Homo sapiens: one gene and its partners. The protein of the gene in region 3 interacts with the protein of the main gene of each other region in a pairwise test. Each region holds a gene or a part of one and is shown on either strand. Other genes may lie near its edges.

The links.
Region 1: the proteins of SLC44A5 (region 3) and SERPINH1 interact in a two-hybrid assay, tested with the Homo sapiens proteins (one large-scale study listed by IntAct).
Region 2: the proteins of SLC44A5 (region 3) and PECAM1 interact in binary tests that used the Homo sapiens proteins (3 or more experiments, as listed by UniProt).
Region 4: the proteins of SLC44A5 (region 3) and CBX5 interact in binary tests that used the Homo sapiens proteins (3 or more experiments, as listed by UniProt).
Region 5: the proteins of SLC44A5 (region 3) and BDNF interact in binary tests that used the Homo sapiens proteins (3 or more experiments, as listed by UniProt).

The regions. Positions count from the first base shown.
Region 1 is NC_000011.10:75,560,993-75,565,052, reverse strand, and holds the start of SERPINH1 (serpin H1 isoform 1 precursor), read right to left. Parts: upstream 2,801-4,060; 5' UTR 2,734-2,800; exon of another isoform or gene 2,675-2,733; intron 2,581-2,674; exon of another isoform or gene 2,037-2,580; intron 1,327-2,036; exon of another isoform or gene 1,283-1,326; intron 1-1,282.
Region 2 is NC_000017.11:64,373,851-64,377,375, reverse strand, and holds part of PECAM1 (platelet endothelial cell adhesion molecule precursor), read left to right. Parts: intron 1-2,019; coding exon 2,020-2,325; intron 2,326-3,525. UniProt on the Homo sapiens protein: Cell adhesion molecule which is required for leukocyte transendothelial migration (TEM) under most inflammatory conditions.
Region 3 is NC_000001.11:75,209,100-75,212,624, reverse strand, and holds part of SLC44A5 (choline transporter-like protein 5), read left to right. Parts: exon of another isoform or gene 1-691; intron 692-1,072; coding exon 1,073-1,157; intron 1,158-3,525.
Region 4 is NC_000012.12:54,232,783-54,235,147, forward strand, and holds part of CBX5 (chromobox protein homolog 5), read right to left. Parts: 3' UTR 1-2,365. UniProt on the Homo sapiens protein: Component of heterochromatin that recognizes and binds histone H3 tails methylated at 'Lys-9' (H3K9me), leading to epigenetic repression. In contrast, it is excluded from chromatin when 'Tyr-41' of histone H3 is phosphorylated (H3Y41ph).
Region 5 is NC_000011.10:27,690,446-27,693,970, forward strand, and holds part of BDNF (neurotrophic factor BDNF precursor form isoform a preproprotein), read right to left. Parts: intron 696-3,525; exon of another isoform or gene 661-695; intron 1-660. UniProt on the Homo sapiens protein: Important signaling molecule that activates signaling cascades downstream of NTRK2. During development, promotes the survival and differentiation of selected neuronal populations of the peripheral and central nervous systems.

The DNA of each region.
Region 1 (4,060 bases), on a different chromosome or scaffold from region 3:
ACAGGAGAGATGACAGGGCAAAGGGAAGGATAGAAGGAATCCTGGTGGAGGCTGCGATCCCACTGCTCTGGTAGATCCCAACTTGTAGTCATCCTTGAAGAAGACCGAACATTTGAAATCCTGGTGGAAGACCCTCAGGACTCTGGCTGCCTGGGGACCACTGTATTTCTGGGAAGATTCTACTGCTGCCATCCCAAAAACCTGGACAGGCTCCCCATCTCCCGGGACTGCCTCCCTCCTCGGAGCCTTGAAGGTGCAGTATAAGATAAGCAAAGGGTCCAAGGGGAGGGAGGTGGGGAGAGGAGGGAAGGCCCAGAGATCTAAAAATGTCTGGAAGGAGCGGGGAGATCTGAGTCTCACCCTAAAATGAAGGGGATATCTTGGGGCCTAGAATAAACCCCAAGACACCTCCCTCCCAGCTCTGGCTCCTTCCCTGCCAGAACTGGAGCCTCAAAGGCAGAGCAACCATATAATTTATTGCACAAACAAGGACACTTATAAGAGTAAAATGGGCACTACTAATTATTATGCCAGGACAATAGGCATATGGCCACCCTACTCAAAAGCCACCTCTGATCCAGACCAGTGATGCTGGAGCTCAGACCACAGCAGAGGCCAACAGCCTTCCTTCCCTGAGGAGGCAGCTGAAGAGCCCACTCCCAGCCATGCCACGTGGCAGGTACCATCTTGACAGCCCCCACCCCCACCAGCCAGAACCTCAAAGGACTGGGAGGGGCTTCTCAAGCAAGCTCCAAATAACTGGTTTGGGATTCCTCAGGCAGCCCGCTAGGCCCGCAGCAGCTTAGCGCCTGCTCCTGGTGGTGACGTGGCAGGCAGGAGGCTGAACTATCTCCACCGGCCGGCAGAGGGGGGCTTCCAGCCTGGGAAGCAGGCCTGACTCAGGTCCCAGGGGGTGCCACATATTTGCCAGGGGACTCCAGGAGCCTTCTTGGCCTTAGTTCCCTTCCCATCCGCACATGAATCTCTGAAGGGAAATGCGCTACTGGGGAGAAGGGCAGCCCCACTGAACCCAGCAGCAGGAATGGGGGAAGGCAAGTTACTGCAAGCAGGCCAGCCTCCCACAGCCCAGCCCATCTTGCCACAGAGAAATGCCAGCCCTCAGGCCAAGGTTAGCTGAGTTACAGTCCCACAAAGAAAATACAAGATCACCTAGCCAGGGCTGTGCCCACAGCTAGCTGGACTGAGCAGGGTCTGGAAGGGAAGGGGAGGAGATGATGGGACCCCACCAGAGGGTCCCAAACACTTGAGAGGTCTAAAGTACCTGGAAACTGCCTCAGAGGGAGGTCAATGCCTGCCTTTTTCATTCTGAAAGAAAACAGAAGAGTGAAGAGGGCGGGAGCCGGCAAAGGAGAGATGGTGAGGAGGCCCCTGGCGCAGAGGGCACAACCAGTCCCCAATCTACAGGGACCTTGGAGATCGACCACCTCACTGTAAAATGGGAGAAACAAGGCCAGGGCAGGGGGTCACCCCAGGTCCCTCGGGATAAACAGGGGTCTGCCTTCCCAGCACAGGGGTCCTTCCTCACAGAAGCACAGAGCCCCTCCTGAGGGCTGCATGCGGTGTCCTGTTACACAGCCAGTACAAAAAAAAAATCTCTGCTGGGAGTCCCGGTGACAGAGGAGACAAAGGAGAGGACGGGAAGGGGGGATGGGTACATGAACCATCTGAAGACAGGAGGGTGTGGCCCCGGCCGGAATTCCGGAGAACCAAAGCCCCCTCATTTTCCTCAGGCCTCCATCCGGGCCGTACAGCCCAGAGGGACCAGCGGGAAACAAGGAAGAGGAGGGGCTGAGACTCTGGGCCAGTCTGGAAGTGCATTCATTCTCCTTCCTGCTCTTCAGCCACCTCAGGAATGTCTCTAAGCTGGGGGGCAGGGAACCCCAGCCTCTGGAAGTTAGACCCTGCAGTTTAAACCCTGCAGTTACTCCAAGAACCCTGTGGCAGTGGACAGAAGGAAAGACTCAAATCCTTCTAGTCAGCCCCTTAATCCCCAGAGCAGAGCAGACCCTGCTGACCCCCACTCTCTTTTTTCGGAGTGGTAGGGAGCCTCGCTGGCCAAGTCTTTCCTTTGGCTGCCATCATCTAGGCTGCAAGCTGCTGATCAGAAATTGAGCCACTGTCGCCCACTTCTACCAGAGCACACGGACCCCAGGAGTCGAGACGATTTCACCTCCTTTCCCACCACCGGAAGCTCAAATTCCCTCAGCAAGCCTGTGAGGAGGCTGGGCCACCAATCACCGCTGCCCCTGAGCCTCAACCCCAGAACGGAAGTGACCTGGAACTGCGAGGCCGGCCTATCCTCCCTACCCTTGCGGGAAGAGGCACCAGACCCATCTCCTTCCTCCTCTGTTTCTTTCCGCAGAGGCTCTGCTCTCTGCCCCCAGCCCCCTTTACACAGCACCTAGTCTCGTATCTGCCACCACCACCTTTTAGGGGTCCCTGCACTTTTTCCCAGTCCTCCGAGTGCACGGACTCCCAACCCGGCTCCGATCTCCGCCCTAGCCCTCAGCTGGCACCATCACTGGCTAGCCCTGGGCTCTCGATTCCAAACCCTCCAGCGGCCCCCAAAGTGCCGAGGACTCCAATTTGTAGGCTCTGGCTCGGCACCCAACGCTTCGCAGGGTCCCCTCGCCCCTCTTACTCCCTCGCGCACCCCCAGATTGCTCGGCGCTCCCCCGGGCCGCACGCACGCAGGCGTCTCCCGCCCCTCACCTGGGTCGGGCTGGGCTAGCGCCGGGACGTGACTCTCGCTCTCGAGCCGCGACACGATTCTACTCTTAGCCCGCTCCCCTGCTCCCGGGATCTATATATGGCAGTCCCCACCCCCTCCTGCCCGTCCCGAGAAACTTCTGGAAAGTTGGAAACGCTTCCGGAGGGCGCCCCAGCTCCGCCAAAAAAAGCCAAAGACCTCCCTCAAAACCTCCCCGGCCCCCGGCCCCTCCCTCTGCCGGCGCCTCCCGGCCCCTGGGTCCTACTGCCTCCCTCGGCGGCCCGGGCTGCGGGGCGCCGGGAGTCCCCACGGGGATCAGCGTGTCCTTCAGAGTGCGAGCTTCCTCCCACCCCCAGGCTCTCTGCATAAGCTAGCCCACTCCGAATCGCACGTCCTTTCAGGCGCCCCTTTCCCCGCAGGGGCTCTGCCCCAAGCAGAGCCATCTCCCCTTCTCCCCGCTCTCCCCCATTTTCAAGCTGAAACAATTGAGTCCTGTGCACCCCCTCCCTCTCAGGGGAGACGTTCAGGCTTCTGAAGGCAGTGCCCTTCTCCATACTTGTACATTCAAAAAACCTCAACCTCAGCGATGGCCAGAGGGAGAGGGAGCAGACCAGACCCGGTACCTGCCCGGCACCCGGAAAGTTCAAGTCGTGGAGTAATAGAGGCAGAGATGCCTGGGGAACTTCAGGTGGTCTGGCTGGGCTTGGAGGAGTGCACAGGAAGGAAAACCTGGCTCTCCACTGAGCAAGGTGCTGTGTGACCCTAAGCAGGTTACTTTCCCTTTCTGGGCCTCTGTTCCCTTGGCTGTGAAATGTGGTTCTAAGGCATCCCTTGCTTTTTTTCCCCCCTCTCTCCCTTCCTCAATCCTTGTCACCCCTGGCCCCCTCCCTATTGCATCCCCTCCCTCTTTGGGTCCCCTCCCACAGGCCTCAGGTCTCACTGTCAATTCCTACCCCACCCTCGCAAACTGATAGCTCCTTGACCTCCAAGTTAAGCTAGGGTATTCATTACTGTTCTAGGTGCTGAGGACACAGCTGAGAGCTGAACAAAGTCCTTGCCCTGTGCGATGTCCATCTGTGGGGTATGTACCTGTTAGTAGGGAATTCAGTGATTCAGTGAGGCAGATTATTTAGGAAACCCTAAATAATCTGGGCGACAGTGGCTCAATTTCTGATCAGCCGAGGCTCCCTACCCTCCGAAAAGTCCTCTTTAGTAGTTTAATGATAGCTATTGGATGGACGCAGTATGGAGAGGAAGGGACAGGGTAGGGACTCTTCATTCATTCAGTCATGAATGAATGCATTGAGTATCTTCTTTCTTCTAGGTGCT
Region 2 (3,525 bases), on a different chromosome or scaffold from region 3:
CCTCCCAAAATGCTTCTTCATCTCGTCTCATAAATTAAAATTTCTTCTTCAAGACTCAACTCAATGATGTCTTCTCTTTCCAAAACAAAATGGGTCTACCCCAGGGTGCCAGTCAGTACAGCTCTGATGCTCTCTCTACATTCAATGGTATTTGTGTGTATAAAGGCCACAGCGGTGTGTTAAGACACCTCGTTCTGCAGTCACTCTGCCTGGGTTTCAATCTGGGCAAGTCCCTTAACAGCTCTAAACTTCAAAATCCTCACCAGTAAAAGGAAGATAACAACGATACCCATTTCAGGCAATTATTGAGAGGGTTAAAAGTGTCATGTGGGTAGAGTGCTTAGCAAAATTTCCAGCACCTAGTGAGTTCCTAATAAATAGAAATGTATTTATTTATTTTGAGACAGAGTCTTCCTCTGTCACCCAGGCTAAAGAGCAATGGCGCGACCTTGGCTCACTGCAACCTCTGTCTCCTGGGTTCAAGCGATTCTCCTGTCTCAGCCTCCCAAGCAACTGGGATTACAGGCACGCGCCACTGTGCCTGGCTAATTTTTTGTATTTTTAGTAAGGATGGGGTTTTACCATGTTGGCCAGCCTGGTCTCGAACTCCTAACTTCAAGTGATTTACCCACCTTGGCCTCCCAGAGTGTCAGGATTACAGGTGTGAGCCACCATGCCCGGTCCACAAATATTCTATTTCACTCAGTATTGCCATCCATTCTTACACATCTGTCTGCTCTTCTGGATAGTGAAATTGTAAAGACAGAGATGGTGTTTGGTTTATTCTTATATCTTGAACAATGAATGTGGCTCATAGTAGGCATTCAGTCAATGTTCATGGAATAAATTAAAGTCAGTCCTAGCCTGTGGCTGCATTCAATAAAGGGTAACAACAATCACAGTGACACTGACAAATACTGGCTACCTTTCCCCTCTAAGCATCATCTGTTGGGAATCTGATTGTGTCCTCTTCCCAATAGGATTATAAACCATTGAAAACACCAAGTACATCTTGACCATATTTTATTTTTTAAATTTATTTATTTATTTATTTATTTATTTATTTATTTTTAGACAGAGTCTCACTCTGTTGCCCAGGCTGGAGGGCAGTGGCACGATCTCAGCTCACTGCAACCTCTGCCTTCGGGGTTCAAGCAATTCTCCTGCCTCAGCCTCCCAAGTAGCTGGGATTACAGGTGCCTGCCACCATGCCCGGCTAATTTTTTGTATTTTTAATAGAGATGGGGTTTCGCCATGTTGGCCAGGCTGGTCTCAAACTCCTGACCTCAGGTGATCCACCTGCCTCAGCCTCCCAAAGTGTTGAGATTACAGATGTGAGCCACCTCGCGTGGCCTTAGTGGTGATTTTGGTGGACCCATCACCCGAGCAGTGTACACTGTACCCAGTGTGTAGTCTTTTATCCCTCGCTCCCTCCCACTCTTTCCCCTGAGTCCCCAAAGTCCACTGTATCATTCTTATGCCTTTGTTTCCTCATAGCTTAGCTCCCATTGAGCATATTTTATATTTTTTCCTTTCTTTTCTTCTCTTTTTTGAGACAGGGTCTCTGTTGCCCAGGCTGGAGTGCAGTGGTGGGATCACTGCTCACTGCCGCCTCAACCTCCTCGGCTCAGGTGATTCTCCCACCTCGGCCTCCCAAGTAGCTGGGACTACCAGTGCACACCACTAACTACCCCTGGCTAATTTTTAATTTTTTTTTTTGTAGAGATAGCATTTCACCGTGTTGCCCAGGCTGGTCTCCAACTCCTGGGCTCAAGAGATCCACCCACCTCAGCCTCCAGATTTTATATATTTCAAAGTGCCTAGTACTGTGCTGGGCACATACCTGTTCATTTATTACCTGGTAGGTCGCACTGGGTGTTCAGAGAACAAAAAAGAGCCCTCTCATGGGTCAACTACAGTCACTCAGCGGAGGGAGGCTTGTGTCTCTCAATCAGGCTGATACTGACAGACTTTCTCTTCAATCAGGCTGATACTGACAGACTTTCTCTTTCCCCGTAGGAGTGCCCAGTCCCAGGGTGACACTGGACAAGAAAGAGGCCATCCAAGGTGGGATCGTGAGGGTCAACTGTTCTGTCCCAGAGGAAAAGGCCCCAATACACTTCACAATTGAAAAACTTGAACTAAATGAAAAAATGGTCAAGCTGAAAAGAGAGAAGAATTCTCGAGACCAGAATTTTGTGATACTGGAATTCCCCGTTGAGGAACAGGACCGCGTTTTATCCTTCCGATGTCAAGCTAGGATCATTTCTGGGATCCATATGCAGACCTCAGAATCTACCAAGAGTGAACTGGTCACCGTGACGGGTCAGCATCCTGCTCCCTTCCTCATCGTTCTTTGTGGTTTCTGGTTTGGTATGGGGAGAAAGAACCCAGAACTGGGAAGGGGCTGCTGTTCTCAGGACTTAAGACCTGTTCTTAATCATTTTAAGCCAGTATTTTTCAAGCTTTTTTGACTGTTATACAGTTAAATTGCATACAATTTTTCAGACAAGAGTTTCACCAACAACACTTTACTCTTAATATATATGATGCTTTTTGTTTGTTTGGCTTGGTTTTTGGGGTTTTTTTTTTGAGACAGAGTCTCGCTCTGTCGCCCAAGCTGGAGTGCAGTGGTGCAATCTTGGCTCAGTGCAGCCTCTGCCTCCCGGGTTCAAGCAATTCTTATGCCTCAGCCTCTGGAGTAGCTGGGATTACAGGCATGCAGCACCACACCTGACTAATTTTTGTATCTTTAGTAGAGATGGGGTTTCGTCATGTTGGCCAGGCTGGTCTCAAACTCCTGATGTCAGGCGATCCACCCGCCTTGGCCTCCCATAGTGCTGGGATTACAGGCGTGAGCCACCACCCCAACCTTGTGTGTGTTTTTGAGACAGGGTCTTGCTCTGTTGCCTGAGCTGGAGTGCAGTGGCATGATTTCAGCTCACTGCAACCTCCGCCTCCCAGGTTCAAGCGATTCTCCTGCCTCAGCCTCCTGGGTAGCTGGGATTACAGGGGCATGCCACCATGCCTGGCTAAATTTGTATTTTTAGTATAGACAGGGTTTTACCATGTTGGCCAGGCTGGTCTCAAACTCCTAACCTCAGATGATCTACTCACCTCGGCCTCCTAAAGTGCTAGGATTACAGGCGTGAGCCACCGTGCCCAGCCTATTTCAGTCTTTAAACACTGGCCATGACACACTACACTGATGCATTATGTGATCTGTAGTTTGGAAGCCACTGCTTTAAGCCATCGAGGGTCAGACACCAGGAAGTTGGGTTTGGAGGGGATCGGGAGGAAAGAGGGGCCAGGTCCTCAGCCTTGGCCTCCTGTTGTTCAACGTAGATTTGCGTTGGACAAACAGCAAACAAATGAGGTGGCCTGGGAAATGCTCCCAGGAGAGAAGGAGGCAACAGCAGAGGGAAGCTGGGGAGTGTCCAGGACATACAGGGCTCTAGGACAGGTAGTCAGCCACTCCCAGGACCCGGTCTCATTTGCCAAGCCGGGAGAAGTCAGGGGAAGGCA
Region 3 (3,525 bases):
GGGTGGCAGGAAGAAAATGAGCAGGTCATCAATTATAGACTGGATAAAGAAAATGTGGTACAAATACACCATGGAATACTATACAGTCGTGAGAAAGAATGAGATCATGTCCTTTGCAGCAACATGGATGGAGCTGGAGGCTGTTATCCTAAGCAAACTGAAACAGGAAGAGAAAACCAAATGCTGCATGTTCTCACTTATAAGTTGTAGGTAAATATTGAGTACACATAGACACAAAGGGGGAAACAGCAGACACTGGGACCTACTTGAGGGTGGAGGGTAGAAGGAGGGAGAAGATCGAAAAACTACCTATTGGATACTAGGCTTGTTACTTGGGTGATGAAATAATCTGTACACAAAACCCCTATGACACATAATTTACTTATATGACAAACCTGTACACATACCCCTTAACCAAAAATAAAAGTTAAAAAAATAAAAGTTTAAAAAGAATTCAAAAGAATATTTCAGAAATAAAAACACTGGCATCAACTGATTGAAGAGACACAAAATATCATTGGCAAAATCTCTTTGCTTGATACAAAAATTTGTTCTCTCTTTCTTCTAAAGAGCTGGGCATGTGGCAAGAGTCCCTGGATCACTGTGTTGAGAAGGGTTGTTCTGTTATCTGGAACACCTCTTATAAACTGTTATCCGAGGGAGAAATAAACTTCTGTTTTATTAAGAAAAAGAAAGAAAGAAGAAAGGAAGAAAGAGAAAGAGAGAGAGAGAAAGGAAGGAAGGAAGGGAGGAAGGGAAGGAGGGAGGGAGGGAAAAGAAAAGAAAAAAAAGAAAAGAAAAGAAAAGAAAGGGGAAAGGAAGGGAAGGAAGAAAGAAAATAGTACCCCCCAAAAAAGGGAAAAAAAAGGCAGTTAATTTAATAAAACTTGTTTAAGTCTCAGTACAAAGTATGCAGAAGCATTATCATTGAACTTTTTGGTCTCTATACTGAACTCTTTTCCCATACAGAGTACTTCAAAACTTTCTCATCATGGCTTTCATTTATAGCTGCATTATTCTTCTTCTGGTCAAAGTAAATGACATGTTGGTTCTCTTCTTCATCCATTTACAGACAGTCATTTTTGGGTCTTACCTGATTGCACATGGGTTCTTCAGCGTCTATGCAATGTGTGTTGAAACAATTTTCATCTGCTTCTGTGAGTATTCAGTATGTGTGTTTTCCCCCTTCGGTGGATAACTGAAAGGTGAGATGGTGAAGGCCCATGTCCTTAGCTGGCTTGGGGATCTGCTGTTACCTGGCTGCAACCACAAAACGTGTTTATCTGGAAAGAGATATTGCTTAGTAGATGTTATTTAAACCATAATACCTGAGAAATAAGTCAGATGCAGAAAGACAAATACTTCATGATCTCACTTACATGTGGAATCTAAAAATGTCAAACTCATAGAAACAGAGTAGAGGGGTGATGACCAGAGATTGAGGGGTCAGTAAAATAGAGAGATGTTGGTCAAAGGGTACAAACTTTCAGTTATGCAGGATGAATAAATTATGGCACTCACATGTACAGCATGGTGACTATAGTTAATAATACTGTATTGTTAACTTGAAATTTGCTAAGCTCGTTAGTATTCTCACCACACACACACAAAGATAACTATGGGAGGTTATGGACATGTTCATTAGCTTGACTGTGGCAATCATTTTACTATATATGCATATATCAAAACATTACACACCTTAAATATTTACAGTTGTTATTTATTAATTATATCTCAATAAAGTTGGATAAAAAAATTATACCTCAACAAGGCTTAGAGAAAAATACAAAATTTAAAAAGAAATCTTAACAGCTAAGAGAATGGAGTTTGCAAAGCACAGAAGAGTCAACTACTGAAATGAAGCACAGGCTTCATGGCATACTGTTAGCATGAAATTATTTTGTTCATTTCTTGATTTTTTAAGTGAATAATAATGATTGGCTTCTGCCATGCTTTGTTAACAGAACTGAAGACGTAACAGGACTCTGGGAACTAGATATGTGGAATTCTTTGAGGAGAGGATTTATAAATTCTGATAAAGCCAAGATGACAAGGTGGTTTCAAGGACATATAGGGCCAATTCGCACTGTGCATCACAATGACAAATGGATAGGATTCGGAGAGGAGTGCCTCTAGGAAATAGTTGGATTAATTTTGATACATAGAGTTAAAATACTTCTTTAGAGCTTTCATCACTGACTTATACATGATGCTCCTATAGTTGCATATGCAACTCCCATACACAAAATAGGGTTTTCTTTTTTTGGCTAGGCACTGTGGCTCATACCTGTAATCTTAGTGCTTTCAGAGGCCAAGATGGGGAGAACTGCTTGAAGCCCAGCTTGAGACCAGCCTGGGCAACATAGTGAGACCCTATCTCTAGAAAATAAATAAATAAATAAATAAATAAATTAGCCAGGCACGGTAGCACACACCTGTAGTCCTAGCTACCCAGGAGGCTGAGGTGGGAGGATCACCTGGGCCCAGGAGTTCAAGGCTGCAGTGAGCTATGATAGTGCCACTGTATTCCAGCCTGAGTAACAGAGCAAGATCCTGGCTCTGAGAAAAAAAAAAAGATTTTTTTAATATTAGTACCTCACTTGAAAAGTCCTGGAGAACCTAGTACCTAGCAGAAGCTTAATCTGGCTTTCACCTTCCATGCCATTTCTTTGGCAAACCAACAGAAAGTAGAGTCAGTAAGTAAAAGAGCAGAACTTGTTAGCTGCACAACTACACATCCTGAGAGATTATTTCTCTAGCACATTGCCCTTAAGAGAAACAGAGAACATTTACTCTCTGACAGGCCATTACTGAACAATCCACTTGTATAAAATTTACAGTTTGCATTTTAGAATAACCCACAGCACCAACTTCACACTGGGATCAAGAGAGACGATAACTATAGGGAGATATATTCAAAGAAAACCTCCTGGAAAAAAGTCTGGCCTTGTTTTTTGTTTGTTTGTTTCTGAGCCTGTTAAAATCAATTCTCAATAACCGGACAAAGAATTCAAGAGAACTTTATGTACTAGTTAGCTCTTCCTCTGGTTGTAAATGGAAATGAAATGTTTAATGTTTTCCTAGTGCTTCAGTGGTCTAAGGAAAGCCATCTATCTACAAAATATCACATGAACAAACAGTTCAGGTATGGGATGGAAGAAGGAGCACGAGTAAGGTCAAGCACTAAAACATGGTGGACGCAGGGCTCTAGAATGCTCAAAGATCTCTCCTCTCATCTCCAACATTAACCATGGGAGCAATAACTGGAAATCACTATGTGACCTTCCCCATTCTTGTAGCTGAAAATACTTATGAAAATTTGTCTCAGGAAATGTCTAGAACCTACTAGCTTCCAGTCTTTGGAAGTTTTGGCTAATATGTGGATTTTAAGTTTGGCAGTTGATTTTGAATTTTGACAGTAAGAAATGTTTTCCACCATCTTTATTAATTGCCAACTCCTTGAAAGCCAGGTACATCAGCTTGATTCAGTGTATTGCATGTTGACATGAATCATTTCCTTTCAGA
Region 4 (2,365 bases), on a different chromosome or scaffold from region 3:
AAAATTACATCTTTAACATTAAGGACATGAATTATTTTGTAAAGAAATATTCACTTTATCTTAGGAGGTGAAGGACTAAGTCACACTGATTTCTCAGAGTTTTATACTGAGTAACCTGAATTCCTAAAATCCAGAAAGCAAGATCACATTCCAACAGAAACAATGAATAAGAACCTTTTCCCCAGTGGTGGTTCTTGGTAGCGCTCTTATAAAGCTGCAAGTTGGTGGCGTGGGAATCCTAGCACCACAAAACACCCTCTTACTACATCACATCCCTCCCCACAATACCCAGAGGGCTGCATTTTTCCAACCTTTCTGCCTCAGCTCAACTTCAAGAGTTACAGCATCTTCAAAAACACCTCAAGGGTAAGGATACAAATGGTGACCCCTGCTTTTCTATTCAGGGAGAGGGGATGAAAATATTCTCTGTAACTAATCATATAGACTCTTGAATTCTTTCCTCCTGTGAGAGATGTAACTCTTTAACAAAAAAAAGGTAGAAGAAAAAACAGTTATGTCTTTTCTCCCCCTTTGGATTTACTTTGGATTCTGGTAGAAATCATTATGTCTCTTATCCTAAACTGAGGAGGTGAGGGGTGAGGGTGACACGAGACAAACACCAAACTCACCACCAGCCCTCGTTTAGAATCCAATCCTAAAGCTACCGGAAACCAGAACACTGACTTGAGCCTTAAGAGTGTTGTGACATGATTAAACTGTCTTTTCAGGTGTTCTCAAAGAATTTCTAGGCAGAAAGCCTCTCCTTTCTTCCATACCTCTTCACAGCAGCCAGTGTAGGAAGTCCCCACATACAACAGAAACTCAAAAGATGATTTATCAACACATACAGTAAAATGTTCACTAGGGGCCGGGTGCGGTGGCTTATGCTTGTAATCCCAGCACTTTGGGAGGCTGAGGCACGTGGATCACTTGAGCTCACGAGTTGGAGACCAGCCTGGGCAACACAGGGAGACTGTCTCTACAAAACATTTTTTAAATAATAAAATTAGCCAGACACCGTGGTGTGCGCCTGTAGTCCCAGCTGCTTGGGAGGCTGAGGCAGGAGGATCATTTGAGCCCAGGAGATTGAGGCTGCAGTGAGCTGTAATAAAGATACTGTGGCCGGGTGCTGGCTCACGCCTGCAATCCCAGCACTTTGAGTGGCCGAGGCAGGCGGATCACAAGGTCAGGAGTTCAAGACCAGCACGGCCAAGATGGTGAACCCTGTCTCTACTAAAAATACAAAAATTAGCCGGGCATGGTGGCAGGCGCCTATAATCCCAGCTGCTCAGGAGGCTGAGGCAGAGAACTGCTTGAACCCGGGAGGCGGAGGTTGCAGTGAGCCAAGATCACGCCACTGCACTCCAGCCTGGGCAAAAGAGCAAGTTTCCATCTCAAAAAAAAAAAAAAAAAAAAAAAAAAAAGGTTCAATATGGATACTCTAGGTACAGGAACCATTCCAAGACCTAAATAGATTTTTTTTTTTTTCCTCACTGATAGCTGATCACATTAAACAGGTACAGGTGCTAAGAAAGTTTAAGACTGATCTTTTGGCAATGACAGTTTAGGTTAACTCTGTTTGGAATTCCTAAAAATAAAAAGAAATCCCTTAAAAAAGGCTGACAAACTGACCACTTGGCCTTGAATCGACTGTTAGGGTCACACCTGCCAATGCCAGGGGACATCACAAAAAAATAGAGAATGCCAAGATAAAAAGTTCACTGCATTCAATTTGGCCTAATTTCTTGATAATAGTTTCCTATTAGATTTTCCGATTAATACTGATGGCTCTTACCTAGGCTGTGATAATTAGGTTTTGATCTATTGTGACATTAATGATCACAATCAGTTGACTTTGAAATTGTCTTAATTAATGGCTCTTTCCTTGTCAGCTTTTGCCTCCAGTGCAGGATTCATTCCCTTCCCCACTGCCTTGTTTTAACTCCTTCTCTTACTGACCTCAGAAACAAATAGCATTGGAGGATCACTTTCTTCCCATAAAACAAGACTTTAAACTATTTTAAAACATTTCTCTTGACAGAGGAGCAATATGAGATGATGTTAGATGAAATGAGGATCAGAATGAAAAGGCAAGAGAACAAGCTGTCAATGAACAGGAAAAATTCCATCTTAGAAAACAACCAAAGTCAAGCACAATGTTAAAGTGACAAGTTGAAGTAACTCTAAAAAGACAAGATGAGGTAGATTAAAATCCAAGAAAGTCAGCACAAGCAAAAAGAAACCAGAATTGTTTTTATGAAACTATCTAAAAAACTTCACACTTTAACTTTCCAGAGCAGTTACTCTAATTCCTGGGAATTCTGACTTCCAAAGTTAGTCAACTCTCAATTATCCAGGCAGAAAT
Region 5 (3,525 bases), on a different chromosome or scaffold from region 3:
CACACACACACACAAACTATGCACAAGTTTGCTTCCATGTTGTATAGCAAGAGTTTAAATATTTCTGAGTTAATGATGCCAAACTGTGCTCCGATTATATCAGCATATTTACATGATCCTTGAACACCACATATAGATTCCTATACTACACATTTAAGCAAAATCACCTCCTGACTTCACAATGAAAGAGACCTATTGGATTAAAAAGTGGTTTCTAGTAAACCCCAAAGAGATACTGTTACTAAATTACTAAATTTAAAGGCAAAATAGTATTCACTAAACTGATTTTTCTGTCTTATTTTCCTTATTTGGCATAATCATTAACCAACTTCTAGTAAATGGAAGCATTCTCACAATTTAAGTTTTTTTAGGGGGAAACACACAATTTATAAATACTGTCAAGTGAAGAACAGATTCCTGAATACTAAAAGACCCATGCATATCCTTGTATGTAAAAAAAAAAAAAATCCATCATAAAATCATAGACTCAAACACCATCTTTGATTCAGTAGTTCTCCCTCTACTGTGGCTTCTGCTATAGAGTCATTGTTAAAAAGAGTTCTTCATGAAAGATTCTCACATAGCAAAATGCTTTAAGAAAATGTCTAACAAACATTTTTATTGTCTCAATTTGTACACAAACTGACACCTGAAAATCAGAGAGGATAAAGAACTTCAATCTTTAAAAAAGAGAGGTAAGTTATTCCAAAATGCTACCAGTCAATAATTAAAAATACAGTTTGGGGGCAAGAAGTTCTGAAATAACTCAGAGAACTTGCTCAAGATTTTACTTTTGGACCAGTCCTCTTTGGGAGGGAGTATGTGAATAGGTAATGAAAGCCTTATATGAGAGAGTCAATGGAGAGCCATATCAAGGAGCACCTGAAGATATATGGATCAATACAGGGAAAAGAAATCCAAGTAGCCCAGTGCCTGACACTCACTGGGCACTCAATTAATGCACGGTGAATTAACAAATGAATTAATGAAAGAACCATTTGCTACATATAACATTCTTACTTTAAGAAAAAAGAATTTGAAACAGAAGAAAACATACACGCAAGAACACATACAAACTATAAACTATATGATATCCTAAAGGAGATGTAAATATTAAACTGTTTGCTTTGCTGACTGACACTATTAATACCTAAAAGCAGTATGAGAGATCACAAAGAATAAGTACTCATTCATACTTGGAGTGGGCTGCTCATCTTATGGTCTAACTTGCATTTTATGTCATGGCCATGTTGCTTAATCTCCAGCTGTTCTACAGAAGAGCAAAATAAGTTATAAATAAATTATTAAAGAAAAAAAGTAACTCTATCCATGCTGAGGCCTGAGGGAGTTGGGGGAGGAGTCAATTCCTTTTAGTTTATATTTAAAAAGAGAAACTCTTTGGAAAACTGTAATATCTGAAGATTTTGTGGTTTCCAAAAGTGAAGGTGAACGGTGAGAAGTTTTCTTAGTTTAGCTACTGAACCCTAAAAAAATATAACCTCAAAAGTTAATTTCTTAAGCAATTTGGGCACCTGAATTTGATAAGAACTTTTTTTTCCAGACATTCTGTTCTGTCTAACCCAAAGGAAAAATAGCCAATTTTGAGAATCTGTATACAAATAAGGAAAAGTAAAATACAGCGCTTTGCAAAGAAATGGGAGGGATTTCTGATACTCAATTCATGATGCTAAACACTTCAAGTAGATGATTCAAAGGCAGAAATATATAACTGTTCTCATTAGGATTGTTTATGGACTATAAATAAGGAGCAGACTTATGGCCAATGCATTAGAAAAAAACAAGTACAAAGGCACTTCAGAAAATACCTTACTCCAACCTCCCATTTTAGTGTCATTTCTAAAAGGGTTTCATTTCAGCCTTCCTACCTTTCTTCCTTCCTTCCCTTCCTTCCCTCCAACGGGGTCTCACTCTGTCACCCAGGCTGAAGAGCAGTGGGACAATCACGGCTCACTGCAGCCCCAACCTCCTGGGCTCAAACGATCCTACTGCCTCAGCCTCCCAAGTAGCTGGGACTACAAGTGCCTGTCACCAGGCTTGGATAATTTTTTTTGTCTTTTGTAAAGATGGGGTCTTGCTATGTTGTCCAGACTCGTAATGATCTCCTGGGCTCAAGTGATCCTCCCACCTCAGCCTCCCAGAGTGCTGGGATTACAGGCATGAGCCACCACACCAGACCTCTTTTTTCTTTATTATATATTCCTCTAATAAAGTGCTCTGTATGCAGTGAGCATTCAATATTTGCTAAATTAAATTAATGGAAAGTTTTCTAACTACCATGTAGAGTATCTAAATTTACATCATTGGTTCTAGAACTGCTGTCTGAAGCAACACAAATTACACTTATGACAGTTCGTCAAATCTTTGAAGCCCATCCTCAAAATAAGGATGTCAAAAATACATCACACATGTTGACACTCTAATCTCCCAGCCACAGTAGGCATTAGCAATCTGAATGTTATTTTTACTAATCCTTCACAGTTTTAGAATTCTTCTCAACCCAACATTCAAAAACCACTTGCCATTCCAGCCTAAGTTTTCTTGTCCCTAAGTCATGCATTCCAAGTCCCCTCAACCATTGCTCACATGCAATGCTTTCAAATTCCCTATGCATCCTGGTCACAGTGATTTGAATGTACACTAATTTATCGATGATGTACCTAAAACAACTTATTTCATTTCCTTGAACTGATGATAATATTCTAGATACAGTCTATTTAAAAAGTGAAGAATTATTAGCTTCTCCATTTCAGTATTATATTTCTAGCAGTGCAGCCCAAAATTTCAGTAGCTATGATAACAGCCTCTTGTCACACCACTGGCTTATACTGAACTTGCAGTTAATTTAAAACATTCAAGCTTCCTTTCTACAATCTGCTGATAAGTCATCCCCTAAAACCGTGCCCGCAACTCTCTATTCTCTCCTAAATTGATTTTTTTGTACTTAATCATAGTATTTTACATTTAAGTAAATGTAAATGATCCAGATTCTATCATTCAACAGAATGTCTGCAATATCTGCTGGCTTTATGTTTCATATGATAAGCATATCGTCTGTGCCTTCAGACACATTATCAGCCAACATGTCGGTGCTGGATGTATTTTCCCAATGTTGCATAAGAGGAATACCTTCGAGAGTTTGGCCTAGGAATGTGGCCTGGGACTCCGCCAAGCATCTCTCTCCAGCAAAATGACTGCAAATTTCTCGACCTTCAGATTCTACATGATGTAAAAGAAGTTTGTCTGTGTTTAAAAACACATTCAAGAAATAAGTGAACATGTGAAAAGACAGAAAAACTTGTTTTAATTTGGGCATAGTTTCAGTTTTCAAAGGCACATGAAGGCAGAAAGAAAGAATCACAAAATGGAACTACTGATGATAGCAACTCCAAAACCAAGACTGATTAGACTAAATCCCATGTGGCAAAAATTTTATTTAGTAAGTTTCCTTCTCCCTCTCTCCCTTTAGATATATGTGCATACACACACACGCACCTTTATTTTAGT